2 linked regions of the Homo sapiens genome follow. The protein of the gene in region 2 interacts with the protein of the main gene of each other region in a biochemical or structural test. Each region holds a gene or a part of one and is shown on either strand. Other genes may lie near its edges.

Region 1 (7,025 bases), on a different chromosome or scaffold from region 2:
TCTTCTCAGCACATCACACTTATTCCAAAATTGACCACATAGTTGGAAGTAAAGCACTCCTCAGCAAATGTAAAAGAACAGAAATGATAACAAACTGTCTCTCAGACCACAGTGCAATCAAACTAGAACTCAGGATTAAGAAACTCACTCAAAACCGCTCAACTGCATGGAAACTGAACAACCTGCTCCTGAATGACTACTGGGTACATAACAAAATGAAGGCAGAAATAAAGATGTTCTTTGAAACCAATGAGAACAAAGACACAACATACCAGAATCTCTGGGACACATTTAAAGCAGTGTGTAGAGGGAAACTTATAGCACTAAACGCCCACAAGAGAAAGCAGGAAAGATCTAAAATTGACACCCTAACATCACAATTAAAAGAACTAGAAAAGCAAGATCAAACACATTCAAAAGCTAGCAGACGGCAAGCAATAACTAAGATCAGAGCAGAACTGAAGGAGACAGAGACACAAAAAACCCTTCAAAAAATCAATGAATCCAGGAGCTGGTTTTTTGAAAAGACCAACAAAATTGATAGACCGCTAGCAAGACTAATAAAGAAGAAAAGAGAGAAGAATCAAATAGACCCAATAAAAAATGATAAAGGGGATATCATCACCGATCCCACAGAAATACAAACTACCATCAGAGAATACTATAAACACCTCTATGCAAATAAACTAGAAAATCTAGAAGAAATGGATAAATTGCTGGACACATACACCCTCCCAAGACTAAATCAGGAAGAAGTGAATCTCTGAATAGACCAAAACAGGCTCTGAAATTGAGGCAATAATTAACAGCCTACCAACCAAAAGAAGCCCAGGACCAGATGGATTCACAGCCGAATTCTACCAGAGGTACTAGGAGGAGCTGGTACCATTCCTTCTGAAACTATTCTAATCAATACAAAACAAGGGAATCCTCCCTAACTCATTTTATGAGGCCAGCATCATCCTGAAACCAAAGCCTGGCAGAGACACAACAACAAAAGAGAATTTCAGACCAATACCCCTGATGAACATCGATACAAAAATCCTCAATAAAATACTGGCAAACAGAATCCAGCAGCACATCAAAAAGCTTATCCACCATGATCAAGTGGGCTTCATCTCTGGGATGCAAGGCTGGTTTAACATACAAAAATCAATAAACGTAATCCAGCCTATAAACAGAACCAAAGACAAAAACCACATGATTATCTCAATAGATGCAGAAAAGGCCTTTAACAAAATTCAACAACACTTCATGCTAAAAACTCTCAATAAGTTAGGTATTGATGGGACGTATCTCAAAATAATAACAGCTATCTATGACAAACCCACAGGCAATATCATACTGAATGGGCAAAAACTCGAAGCATTCCCTTTAAAAACTGGCACAAGACAAGGATGCCCTCTCTCACCACTCCTATTCAACATAGTGTTGGAAGTTCTGGCCAGAGCAATCAGGCAGGAGGAGGAAATAAAGGGTATTCAATTAGGAAAAGAGGAAGTCAAATTGTCCCTGTTTGCAGATGACATGATTGTGTATCTAGAAAACCCCATCGTCTCAGCCCAAAATCTCCTTAGGCTGATAAGCAACTTCAGCAAAGTCTCAGGATACAAAATCAATGTGCAAAAATCACAAGCATTCTTATACACCAATAACAGACAAACAGAGAGACAAATCATGAGTGAATTCCCATTCACAATTGCTTCAAAGAGAATAAAATACCTAGGAATCCAACTTATAAGGGATGTGAAGGACCTCTTCAAGGAGAACTACAAACCACTGCTCAAGGAAATAAAAGAGGATACAAACAAATGGAAGAACATTCCATGCTCATGGGTAGGAAGAATCAATATCGTGAAAATGGCCATACTGCCCAAGGTAATTTATAGATTCATTGCCATCCCCATCAGCTACCAATGACTTTTCTTCACAGAACTGGAAAAAACTACTTTAAGGTTCATATGGAACCAAAAAAGAGCCCGCATTGCCAAGTCAATCCTAAGCCAAAAGAGCAAAGCTGGAGGCATCATGCTACCTGACTTCAAACTATACTACAAGGCTACAGTAACCAAAACAGCATGGTACTAGTACCAAAACAGAGATATAGACCAATGGAAAGGAACAGAGCCCTCAGAAATAATGCCACATATCTACAACTATCTGATCTTTGACAAACCTGATAAAAACAAGAAATGGAGAAAGGATTGCCTATTTAATAAATGGTGCTGGGAAAACTGGCTAGCCATATGTAGAAAGCTGAAACCAGATCCCTTCCTTACACCTTATACAAAAATTAATTCAAGATGGATTAAAGACTTAAATGTGAGACCTAAAACCATAAAAACCCTAGAAGAAAACCTAGGCAATACCATTCAGGACATAGGCATGGGCAAGGACTTCATGTCTAAAACACCAAAAGCAATGACAACAAAAGCCAAAATTGACAAAATGGGATCTAAGTAAACTAAAGAGCTTCTGTACAGCAAAAGAAACTACCATCAGAGTGAACAGGCAACCTATAGAAAGGGAGAAAATTTTTGCAATCTACTCATCTGACAAAGGGCTAATATCCAGAATATATAAAGAACTCAAACAAATTTAGAAAAAAAAAAAACAAACAACCACATCGACAAGTGGGCGAAGGATATGAACAGACACTTCTCAAAAGAAGACATTTATGCAGCCAAAAGACACACGAAAAAATGCTCATCATCACTGGCCATCAGAGAAATGCAAATCAAAACCACAATGAGATACCATCTCACACCAGTTAGAATGGCAATCGTTAAAAAGTCAGGGAACAACAGGTGCTGGAGAGGATGTGGAGAAATAGGAACACTTTTACACTGTTGGTGGGACTGTAAACTACTTCAGCCATTGTGGAAGACAGTGTGGTGATTCCTCAGGGATCTAGAACTAGAAATACCATTTGACCCAGCCATCCCATTACTGGGTATATACCCAAAGGATTATAAAATCATGCTGCTATAAAGACACATGCACACGTATATTTATTGTAGCACTATTCACAATAGCAAAGACTTGGAACCAACCCAAATGTCCAACAATGGTAGACTGGATTAAGAAAATGTGGCACATATACACCATGAAATTCTATGCAGCCATAAAAAATGATGAGTTCATGTCCTTTGTAGGGACATGGATGAAGCTGGAAACCATCATTCTCAGCAAACTATCGCAAGGACAAAAAACCAAACACCGCATGTTCTCACTCATAGGTTGGAACTGAACAATGAGAACACGTGGACACAGGAAGGGGAACATCACACACCGGGGCCTGTTGTGGGGTGGGGGGAGGGGGGGATAGCATTAGGAGATATACCTAATGTAAATGACGAGTTAATGGGTGCAGTATACCAACATGGCACATGTATACATATGTAACAAACGTGCATGTTGTGCACATGTACCCTAAAACTTAAAGTATAATAAAAAAATAAATAAAAATAAAAAAACGTAAAACTGGAAAAAAAAAGAGAACCTTGCATAAAGCTCAGCAATGACTCTCACAATGGATCCACTATGACTACTGGGTGGAGGATGGATTGGGAAGGGGCAAGAGCAGCTGCAGGCAGCCCCATCAGGCAGCTGGGGCAGGAATCTCGGTGAGAGATAATACCAGCTTGGGTTAGGGAGGTGGCAGAGGAGACTGCTTGTAAGAGAAGCAGTGAAGGGGTGTCTTGTTTATTGTTTTTTTAATCTCAGAGCCCAACACCATGCTCAGAAGACAATAACAACTTAGTAAATATTGTGAGTGATTTGAAAGAAAGTCAAAGCTTTACGTTATTTCTCTCTGTGGAGATTTTTGAGACTAGGCAGGTAAATATGTATTACCAGTTAAGGAGGCTAATTTTTCTTGCACAGTGTCCACTACAGATGACACAGATACATAATAAAAGGGCAAAGTGGTAATGAAGGCAGCATGAGTGAAGGTTAAAGATGAGAACAAGCATTCATATTCAAAGATACTCAGAGGCCCAATCTATGAGGGAGGAGTTCATGTAGAGCAGAAGGAAATAAAGTTAGATTGGTTAAGAGTGGCCAAATCTTGCCCCAGGAAGTGATATACAAAAGCAATGGTTAGTATATTCGAAATCCTTATGATGACTTCAAGAAACAAAGACAAGGGTCATGGAGACAAGGTTCCAGGAGACTGACATAGTAATTCAAGAGAGATGAGAAAGTAAATGAGTGTAGCACCCATGGAAATGTTTAAAGGTAGGATCAGTAAGAAATGGGACAAGTGGACAAAGAGAAAGGCAGAAAAAGATGAGTCAAAATTGACTTAGGTTTCCAGCTTAGGCAGCTAGGATAATGCTGGTTTTACTGGAAATAAGGAATATTCACTATGGTAGGAAGAAAATAGTTTCGTTTTAGACATATTAAAGTTTGAGATAATGATGGGACACAATTATAACCATCTTTAGGAAGACATGAATTAGAATTCAGAGACTATAGGTAAAATATTTGGCAGTCATCAACATGGAAATGATGACAGAACATTTGAGAGCAAGAACTTGAGTAAGAAACGTCACAGAATACCTCCAAGTTTTTTTTTTTTTAATTATTTTTTTAGGAGGGTAGGGAAAAAGAAGCCAGGGTAGAAAACAGAGGAGTACAGCTAAGAGAAACTGGATATTATCATCCCACCAAGGCCAGGAGATAATCAGAAAAGAGCCACCTCTAAAGAGACAGAGATGACTCTTTAGAGACTTCTTTCCAAGAAGATTCTTAGAGTAAGTGGGTAGGCTGGAGGGTTGGAACAGATGGAACACAAATGACAGAGCATCACGTAACATGAGGAAAATCATCAAGTAGATCACTGAATATGCCAAGAGTATTAAAGCTAAATTATTAAAAGTTAAAATTATATGAAATATCACAGTCTTGGATGAGAAAACTAAAGAGGTTAGGGTTTGGTTTTTTATTGTTAAATTAAAACAAGATTAAAGTCTACTAAAATAAGTTATACAATTTTATAGCAAAATAGCTAAGGTGAAATTAGGATTGAATATTAAGTAATTAATAATCTAATTTTATAAAATCTGAAAATGAATAAACATATTATAGATTGCTTTTTTCCCTGAAGTTTTCTAATCAAATAATCTTAAATCATATCCCACATCAAGCTAAAGAATTTAGGCCCTAAAAATGCAGAATAAAGCAATATGGTAAAAGATAGAAAAGGAGCAAGAAAGAAACAGCAATAATTTAGTGTGGAAAGAAGGAAGTGAAGGTTTACTAATGTGGAATATAGGAATGTTTGCATAATGCATATATTCGCTTATTCAGCAAATCTATATTAGACATAAAATAGGTATAATGTGTTGGGGCTACCAGGATGAATGCAGTATCACTCCTCAATGGATTTACAGTCTAAAGTACTACGTTTACAATACAAAATATATTTTATTGTTGTACTTAAGTAAAACCTAAAGTAATGTGATTACTTTTTAACCATCCAACCTAGATTTTTGTTGATCACATAAGTCTAAATTACATTGGCTGAGATTTTACAAAAAGACCCTCAAATTCTAAGATGATCTAAAGTGTTAAATGTGTATAGAAAAAAATTCTACTGCATTAGTGGTTAGAAAAAACATCAATTCCTATAACCCTATAGCCCTGACATTTAAATTTTAGGAGATGGCAACCATGACATAACAGGAAGAAAGATCCTCTGAATTTTTCCTACGACATTTTAGCTAGGAATTTGATGATACTGACAAGACTAAGCAGACAATTTGTAGATTTCCTCCCACATTTAGTTTAGTTAACAGTTCTTATTAAACCAAACATCCAGCAACTAAATTAAATTTTGTTTTGGCCCATACAGTACATTATTATGGTTCATTAATACTCACCAAATGGGATACCTTAACAGATCCTTCACAATTAGAAGGTTCACCCTTCTCTCTGCTTTCCAAAATCTAGATAGAAAAGGCAAGCTGTAGAAAAATTAGTGCATTCTTACTTGGAAAGATCTAACAGATAGATAGAATTACCTACCATCCTAAAGATGGTATGAGAACGACTGCTTCTTTGATTCATTTTTGTTTCTCCATAATGCCTGCTCTCTGTAAAAATGAGTTATATTTCAGCTGCATATATAATAAAATCCATAGAAACACAATAATTTTTATTTTAACTTAAAAAAGTATGATTTGAGGTCCAAACGTGCTTGATTGAAAAGATAGTTTTTACAAGTGTTCTAAAGAAATACAGCATAAAGTCTTACTTTCTCCCTTTGTAATCCATTTCAAAGCCATTTCTGATGTATATACAACTTCTTCTGTGAGATCAGCAACATACACATTCCTCTGAAACAAGTTTAATTATGGAAAGATTAGAGAAATAGAAGTCACAAGTTTGCTTTTCAAAAGAAGGTGCAAACTATTATAGAATTCATTTGTGAAAGTTAAAAGTGGCAAATGGAACCATAATTCTGTAGGAATGTAACAAATAATTCTATGAATACCCACAATTTATTTCACATACCAAAGCACAACAAATTCTAACCTGATACTTCCAACTTGCTATTTTTACACTTAAACCAAAATATTAGAGCTGTCAGTATTTTAAAACTATTCATATTGTTTAAAAGATGAATATAAATACTTCAAAAAAACCCTCACATACTATAGAAATAGGAGACACTTTAAAAACTATAGAAATTAAAGGTAAACATTCAAGAACAATAATCTCAATAAGTCAGTCAATTTTAAAGCTCCCTTAAGTCTGCTACTCACATTGACATCTTCTCGAATAATTAAAGGTTTCATTTTTTGAGTGCCACAGAGTAAATCTGTAATGGTTTCATTGTATATTTCCATGTAAGATACACGTAAGAGAAATTCCCTATCAGGAAACTAGAAGAAAAAAAATTATATAAAAACACCAGGAAGCATCCAATTGTGAAAACCTAATGCTAAATGCTCATGTGCTTAAAGAGGTAAAATGTATGTAAAACAAACTAAGAAACCCCTTGGTTCTACTGTTGACAA
Region 2 (7,025 bases):
GACAGGGAACCCTCCCCCAGGTCCCCCCAGAACCAGGAGCGTGGGGCAGTGCCCAGCTCCCTCCAACAGCAGAGAGCAACACAGGGGGCAGGGGTCTCCTGAGCCCCACAGCCTCGCTGGGGGTGCAGACTGCACAGTGACTCTGGACTCCCAGCCCTGCTCCTTCAGGGGCACCCTGCAGAGTCGACACAGCCCCGGCAGCACCCTCCGAGGCTTGGCGTGGGCAGACCCCAGCACCACCTCCCCACATCAGGGGATAGGCTGGCGTTCCAAAGGCCGTGGGCCTCATGTAGACCTGGAGGGTGTGGGCAGGCCCTGCTGGCCCTCATGGAGGCCTCATTCTTCCCTGGGACGCCACAGGCCTTGGCCTCAAAGGGCTCTCTGGACGCCATGAAGCACACTTAAGCTGGTGAGAGATGGACTTGTTTTCGTGGAGGACTGGATTTACTTGTGATTAATGGGGTACATATAAACTGACAAATGATACGAATTAGTTTAAGGGCCTGAAATTTCAGCCCCTTGCTTCTCCACAGCTGCCTGCAGACTCGGATGGCTCCACCTGTTTGCACAACCCCACGGGGCCATGGGGACACGGGGCCAGGGTGCTCTGCCCCAGCAACCACCAGACCCGGCTGCCCACAGGGGAGGACAAACCCTCTGGGGATGACAGGCAGGGGCGCCTGAGGCTGCCCCAAAGGCGCACGGATGGACCTACCCACGGAAGGTCGAGGATGGCAGGGACCGGGGGTGGGGGGTGCCTACCTGCCACCTCCTTGGACGATGGCAGACTCGCGGCGGCAGCCTCAAGGTCGGCTGGGACGGTGCCTCCTCTCTCCATGGCGCGCAGGAGCCCGCGCAGTCGCTCGCACTCCGCCTGCAGCTGGCTGTGGTCCTCGCGCAGGCGCTGCCTGGCCACACTGGTGGGGTTCAGGCTCATGTGCAGCACTTTGGTCCTGCTCTGGTCATAGTCACCCTGCAGGAACACACACAGCACAGGTCACCATGGCCCAGGCACACACGCAGCACGGGTCACACACAGCATGGGTCACCATGGCCCAGGAAGACACACAGCACGGGTCACACACAGCACAGTGCTCAGTTCTTTTGTCTTCTTGAGCCTGCCTGGCAGCCATCTCTCCTGGAAGGAGTGGCTCCTTCCCTGTGCCCTGTGGACAGGTGCAGGAACAAGGCCTGGCCACCTGCTGGGTCCCTTCTGCCTAACCACAGGAACAGGGTGAGAGGGGACATGCGGCCTTTGCTCAGCCAAGTGCGGTGCTTCCCAGAATTCCACACTCAGTGCCCGGGAGGGAGGCTTCCTCTCCTCTGAGGTTCCTGGCTGGGATGAGACTGGGAGCCCGTGTGGCCATGTTCCCATCTCTTCCCTACCAGCCTGGAAGGTGCCCCGTGCCACAAGAGAAACAAGGTCAACCACACAGAGATGGAAGGCAAGGGAGCCTGGCATCAGCGTGGGTGGCTCAGGAATGCGCCTCGCAACCTGATGTTCCCACGAAACCCAGGGCCGGGATGTGTGTGGCATCCTTGAGGGAGGAGTGCGCCTGGAGGCCCAGCCTGCTGACCTGTGGTGGGTGACCGACCCCCAGCAACAAGCACCATGCAGCCCTGCAGCAGGGACAGCCCCCCACAGCAGGGGACAGCCGCCCACAGCAGGGAACAGCCGCCCACAGCAGGGGACAGCCGCCCCCAGCAGGGAGGTGCAGGGTCACTGCGCACCCGAGACCCCGACCTCACGCCACACACAAACATCAGCCGCCCACAGCAGGGAGGTGCAGGGTCACTGCGCACCCGAGACCCCGACCTCACGCCACACACAAACATCAGCCGCCCACAGCAGGGAGGTGCAGGGTCACTGCGCACCCGAGACCCCGACCTCACGCCACACACAAACATCAGCCGCCCACAGCAGGGAGGTGCAGGGTCACTGCGCACCCGAGACCCCGACCTCACGCCACACACAAACATCAGCCGCCCACAGCAGGGAGGTGCAGGGTCACTGCGCACCCGAGACCCCGACCTCACGCCACACACAAACATCAGCCGCCCACAGCAGGGAGGTGCAGGGTCACTGCGCACCCGAGACCCCGACCTCACGCCACACACAAACATCAGCCGCCCACGGCAGGGAGGTGCAGGGTCACTGCGCACCCGAGACCCCGACCTCACGCCACACACAAACATCAGCCGCCCACGGCAGGGAGGTGCAGGGTCACTGCGCACCCGAGACCCCGACCTCACGCCACACACAAACATCAGCCGCCCACGGCAGGGAGCTGCAGGGTTACTGCGCACCCGAGACCCCGACCTCACGCCACACACAAACAACAGCCGCCCACGGCAGGGAGGTGCAGGGTCACTGCACACCTGAGACCCCGACCTCACATCACACACAAACATCAATTCCACCACATTCTGTCTCCTGGGAGTAGACACAGGTTACTCAAACAGGGTTCAGGAAGTGCTGGCCGTAAAAGAAAAAAAAAAGAGTACAACTGACCTTATAGAAATTAAGAACTTCATCCACTGAAACAGTGGAAAGGCACCCACAGAGCAGGAGGTGCTGTTTGAAAATCACATTTCTGAGAAAGGGTTCAGATCCAGAACATACGAAGAAGTCAGAAATAACCAAGGGCATGTCAGAAATAACCAAGGGCATGTCAGAAATAACCAAGGGCATGTCAGACAACCCACTCTAAAAATCTGCAAAACATGTGAGCAGACACTTCCCAAAAAGACACCCAAAAAGCTGATAAACATATGAAAAGGTGCACACACATGGGCCAGGGCTGGGGCCAGAGGCGCGCACGCACACACACACACACACACACACGCACGCACACAGAGACCAGGACTGGGACCAGAGGCGCACACACACACACGGGCCAGGGCCGGGGCCAGAGGCACACACACACACACACACACACACACACACGGACACAGTCCAGGGCCGGGGCCAGAGGCGCGCACACACACACACACACACACACACATACAGGCCAGGACCGGGACCAGAGGCGCACACACACGGGCCAGGGCCGGGACCAGAGGCGCACACACACGCACACACACACACACACACACACATGGGCCAGGGCTGGGGCCAGAGGCACACACACACACACACGGGCCAGAGCCGGGACCAGAGGCGCGCACACACACACGGGCCAGGGCCAGAGGCGCGCACACACACACGGGCCAGGGCCGGGACCAGAGGCGCACACACACATACGGGCCAGGGCCAGGACCAGAGGCGCTCACACACACACACACACACACGGGCCAGGGCCAGAGGCACACACACACGGGCCAGGGCCGGGACCAGAGGCGCGCGCACACATGGGCCAGGGCCGGGGCCAGCGGTGCACGCACACACATACACACACACATACACACACACACAGGCCAGGGCTGGAGCCAGCGGCGCACACACACGCACACACACGGGCCAGGGCTCCCGCCAAGTGCTGAGATTCTGCAGCTTGTGGCTGTGAGCTGTGGGGCAGTGAGACTGGATGGGCACCCGGTCCCTCAGGCACAGACATGACCATGGTCATGACATGGGTCATGTCAGGCACAGACATGACCATGGTCATGACATGGGTCATGTCAGGCACAGACATGACCCAGCAAGCCAGGCCAGCACCACGCATAGCAATGGCCTCCTCCCCTTTGGCAATGAGTTCCTGCCACCCTTGGGGCTTCTGCCCACGCACTCTCCTATCTCCCAGAGGGGAACAGGGAAACACATCCTGTGTTCAGATCACCCCACGCTCTCAGGAGAGGCCGGTGTGGACACACCCCACGGGGTGAAGAGACCGGGCGCAGTAAGCCTCCAGCCTCCCAAGAGCTCAGGCTGCTGTGGGCCACTGCTCTCCAAGTCCCCGAAGGACGGCGAGGCCTGGCTTGGGCTGTACCCTGGGGACCTCACTTGGGCTGGAGCTCATCAGCCATGGGCAATCGTGGTCCCAGAGCCCAGAATGTGCCTCCAACAGGGAGAGAGGAGAGGATGGGGAAGAAGGGAAGAGACCTCACCCCTCCTGGTGCCACCCCGGACTCTAAGACATCCCCCTGACGTCACGTCACACAAGCTAACTGCTGGCCCTGCCACCCCCCTCATGGAAGAGGCCAGTGGAGATGGACATGCTGACCTGGACCAGGGACCTCCGGCCCCATGGCACGATGGCAGAGGCCGCCGCAGAGGGAAGCGGGGTTTGCAGACACGGCTCGCTTGGCCGCTCCCTCTGTGCTTCTCCTGGGAAGGAGGAGGGGAGGGGAAATCCACCCACTCAGGCCCAGGGGAGAGGGAGGCGGCAGCCCTGCCGCTGGGCCGGGGCAGGAGAGGATCCGCGCAGCTCTTCACAGGTTTTCTGAGAACCTTGTAAACCTCAGAGGATGAAGAGACATCTTGTAACTCTGGCTGAATCACAGACTCTTGGGGTTGAAAGGATTGCTACTTCATCCAGTTTTCACAGCCGGGGTTAAGATAACCCAGTATGCAGAATCCAGCCACCCACACGCACTCAGGAGACCCCTCTGACGGGCGGCACTGGCTTTCCGGGGCCTCTGTGGGCTGGACAGCATCTCAACCTCTTCACCATCCTACGGAGCCTCGAGGAGCCAGGGAGGATGTGGGCAGAGGGTGGGGCCGCCTCCTGCGGAGAGCAGCCAGTCACGGGGCTGTGCAGTCACCCTGCCCCCGTCCTAACCACGTAGCGCTGCAACTGCACCCAGAAAGCCGCAGGGCACACAAGGCCAGCATGGGCCCCGCTGACGGAGCTGCGGGCACGGAAACACGAATCTGAATTTCAGATAACCCGCGTGTGTCCCAAAATATTCTTCTTTTGATTTTCTTCAACCCTTCAAAAATGTACAACGGTTCTTAGTTGAGGGGCTGCACAGAAGGCGGGGCTGTAGTCAGCTGACCCCTGGCAAGAACCAGGCCGCACAGCGTGTACTCAGCCCTCCTCTGACCCAGAGCAGTGAGACCCTCCTCCCCCAGGCCTCACCCTCCTCTTCCTCCCCCCGCAGGCCTCACCCTCCTCTTCCTCTCCCAGGCCTCAGCCTCCTCTTCCTCCCCAGGCTTCAACACCGCGGACCTCCTGAAGGGACCTCCAGGTGGGAGGAGGTAGTGACCATCCTAGAGGCTGCCCAGCAAGGCCTCGCCTGGCCCCAGCATCCTCCTACTTAGCAGATAGGGGGACTTGCAGGAGGGGTCGGGGGTCAGCGGTGGTGCGCCCAGCGCTGGCGTTGGACCCAGCAGTGCCTGAGGACGTCAAGTTCCCCGGGGTGGATGTCCTGGCAACGTTCAACGTTCCACGGGCAGGAACGAGAGCCAGAGGCACAGCCCCAGCCCCCAGCCCCCAGCCAGGGTGCCCCACGACCGGCCCATCATCCTGGGATGAGGTTTCCCCCCTGATGGGGGGCTTGAGGTCCAGGAAACAATTCTGTATATTAGAGGATTTAAGGACCAAAAGCCCAAGCCAGTAGAGATGAAGGAAACCAAATCAAAACAGAGAAAAGATAAAACTGAGAAGTTCTTCTTAAACACCAATCCTGTCACCCTCTGGCCCCCAACAGTGCAGCGCCCTGCACTGCTGGCCCCGCTGGGGGCGAAGGCTTGGTGTGTGCAAAGCCACCGTGTCCGGGCTGGGACCAGCCCCCAGGCTTGTCCTCCTCAGCCGCTACGCATGCACCACCAGGTCCTGCTCTCCCGGAGCCACAGTGTGAGGCCAAGGTCGGCGCAGGTTCCCGTGGCCCGGCTTCCACCTGCAGCAGGAGGCCCTGGGTCACGGAGAGCATTCACTGGGCACCTGCGGCTGGGGCTGGAGCGACCTGCGATGGCACCGCTGACCAGGGCTGAGAACAAGCCTGGGCTCCATAACTGGTGGCGTGGAGAACCCACCTCCCAGGAGGGCGAGGGAAGTGGGAGGACAGGCGCTAGGGCTCTGTGCAGATGGCAACATTCCAGGCACCTAGTCGTCTTTCTGTAAGTTCAGGGGACTTTCCCTGCCTAACGCCTGGAGAAGGCAGAGCCCCTAGAGGCAGCACGGGAGGGGCAGACTGGGCACCACCCACCCGCTCACGTCCCCACCGTGATTCTGGGCCAGGCTCTTGACCTCCACGCGTTCGTTCCTGCCATCCTTCCTTTCTTCCCTTAGTCCATCCACCCGCACACCTGTCTGTCCATCTGACATGATTTCCAGGCCCTGGATGCCCTCAGCACAGCTGTGAATACAGGGGTGGAGCTGCCACTCATGGTGGGAGCAGCTGGCATCCCACAGAGGAGCCTCCTGGGCCAACACTCAGCAAGTGGAGGGGACATTCCCGGCCCCTCCAGAAGGAGGCCACGCCTGAGCCCCTGGGGGCCCAGGACCTCTGCTCCAGGTGAGACAGGACCGTGCCCCAAGGTGGCTGGGGGCGACAGCCAAACTTCCAGCCTGCTGCTGTGACCACAGCCTGGGCAGCGCAGAGTCAGGCACACCATTCCATGCCTCGGAGCCCGCGCGCCACACATTTCAGCAGGTGCTGGAAGTGCAGGGGTAATGGGAGCCCTGTGCTGAGGCCCGTCTCCAGGGCAGCCGAGTGTCGGGATGGGAGGACGGCCCTATGTCCTATACAAACAGCACCACTCCTGCACCCACCCCACCAAGAGGAGCCATTTCAAACACACAGGCAGCAAAACAGCATGGGAGGAAACTAGGCGGGATCTAGGTGATTAGGAAACATCCCATGTCTCGGATCAGAAGACCCGGCGCTGTCGGGACCAGAGACTCCCAGGGCTGATCTGCACATTCTGTACAATCCCAGGACTCAGCCGGCCTCCCTGAAGAACTGATAAGCTGATTCTGAAACTCACACGGAACTGCAGGGGCTCAGAAGAGCCACCACAGGCTTGCAAAGGGGGAACACGGGAGGAAGACTCAGTCTCCTGATTTCAAAACTTACTACAAAGCCACTGCAATCAGGATGGTGTGGTGTGGGCATGAGGACCGACGTACAGACCAACAACA

What was found. The genes of interacting proteins can lie anywhere in the genome.
Region 1: the proteins of MAD1L1 (region 2) and CENPE form a complex in vitro, tested with the Homo sapiens proteins (one study listed by IntAct).

The regions. Positions count from the first base shown.
Region 1 is NC_000004.12:103,188,344-103,195,368, forward strand, and holds part of CENPE (centromere-associated protein E isoform 1 precursor), read right to left. Parts: intron 6,891-7,025; coding exon 6,771-6,890; intron 6,342-6,770; coding exon 6,260-6,341; intron 6,099-6,259; coding exon 6,031-6,098; intron 5,952-6,030; coding exon 5,886-5,951; intron 1-5,885. UniProt on the Homo sapiens protein: Microtubule plus-end-directed kinetochore motor which plays an important role in chromosome congression, microtubule-kinetochore conjugation and spindle assembly checkpoint activation.
Region 2 is NC_000007.14:1,935,925-1,942,949, forward strand, and holds part of MAD1L1 (mitotic spindle assembly checkpoint protein MAD1), read right to left. Parts: intron 4,648-7,025; exon of another isoform or gene 4,164-4,647; intron 974-4,163; coding exon 763-973; intron 1-762. UniProt on the Homo sapiens protein: Component of the spindle-assembly checkpoint that prevents the onset of anaphase until all chromosomes are properly aligned at the metaphase plate.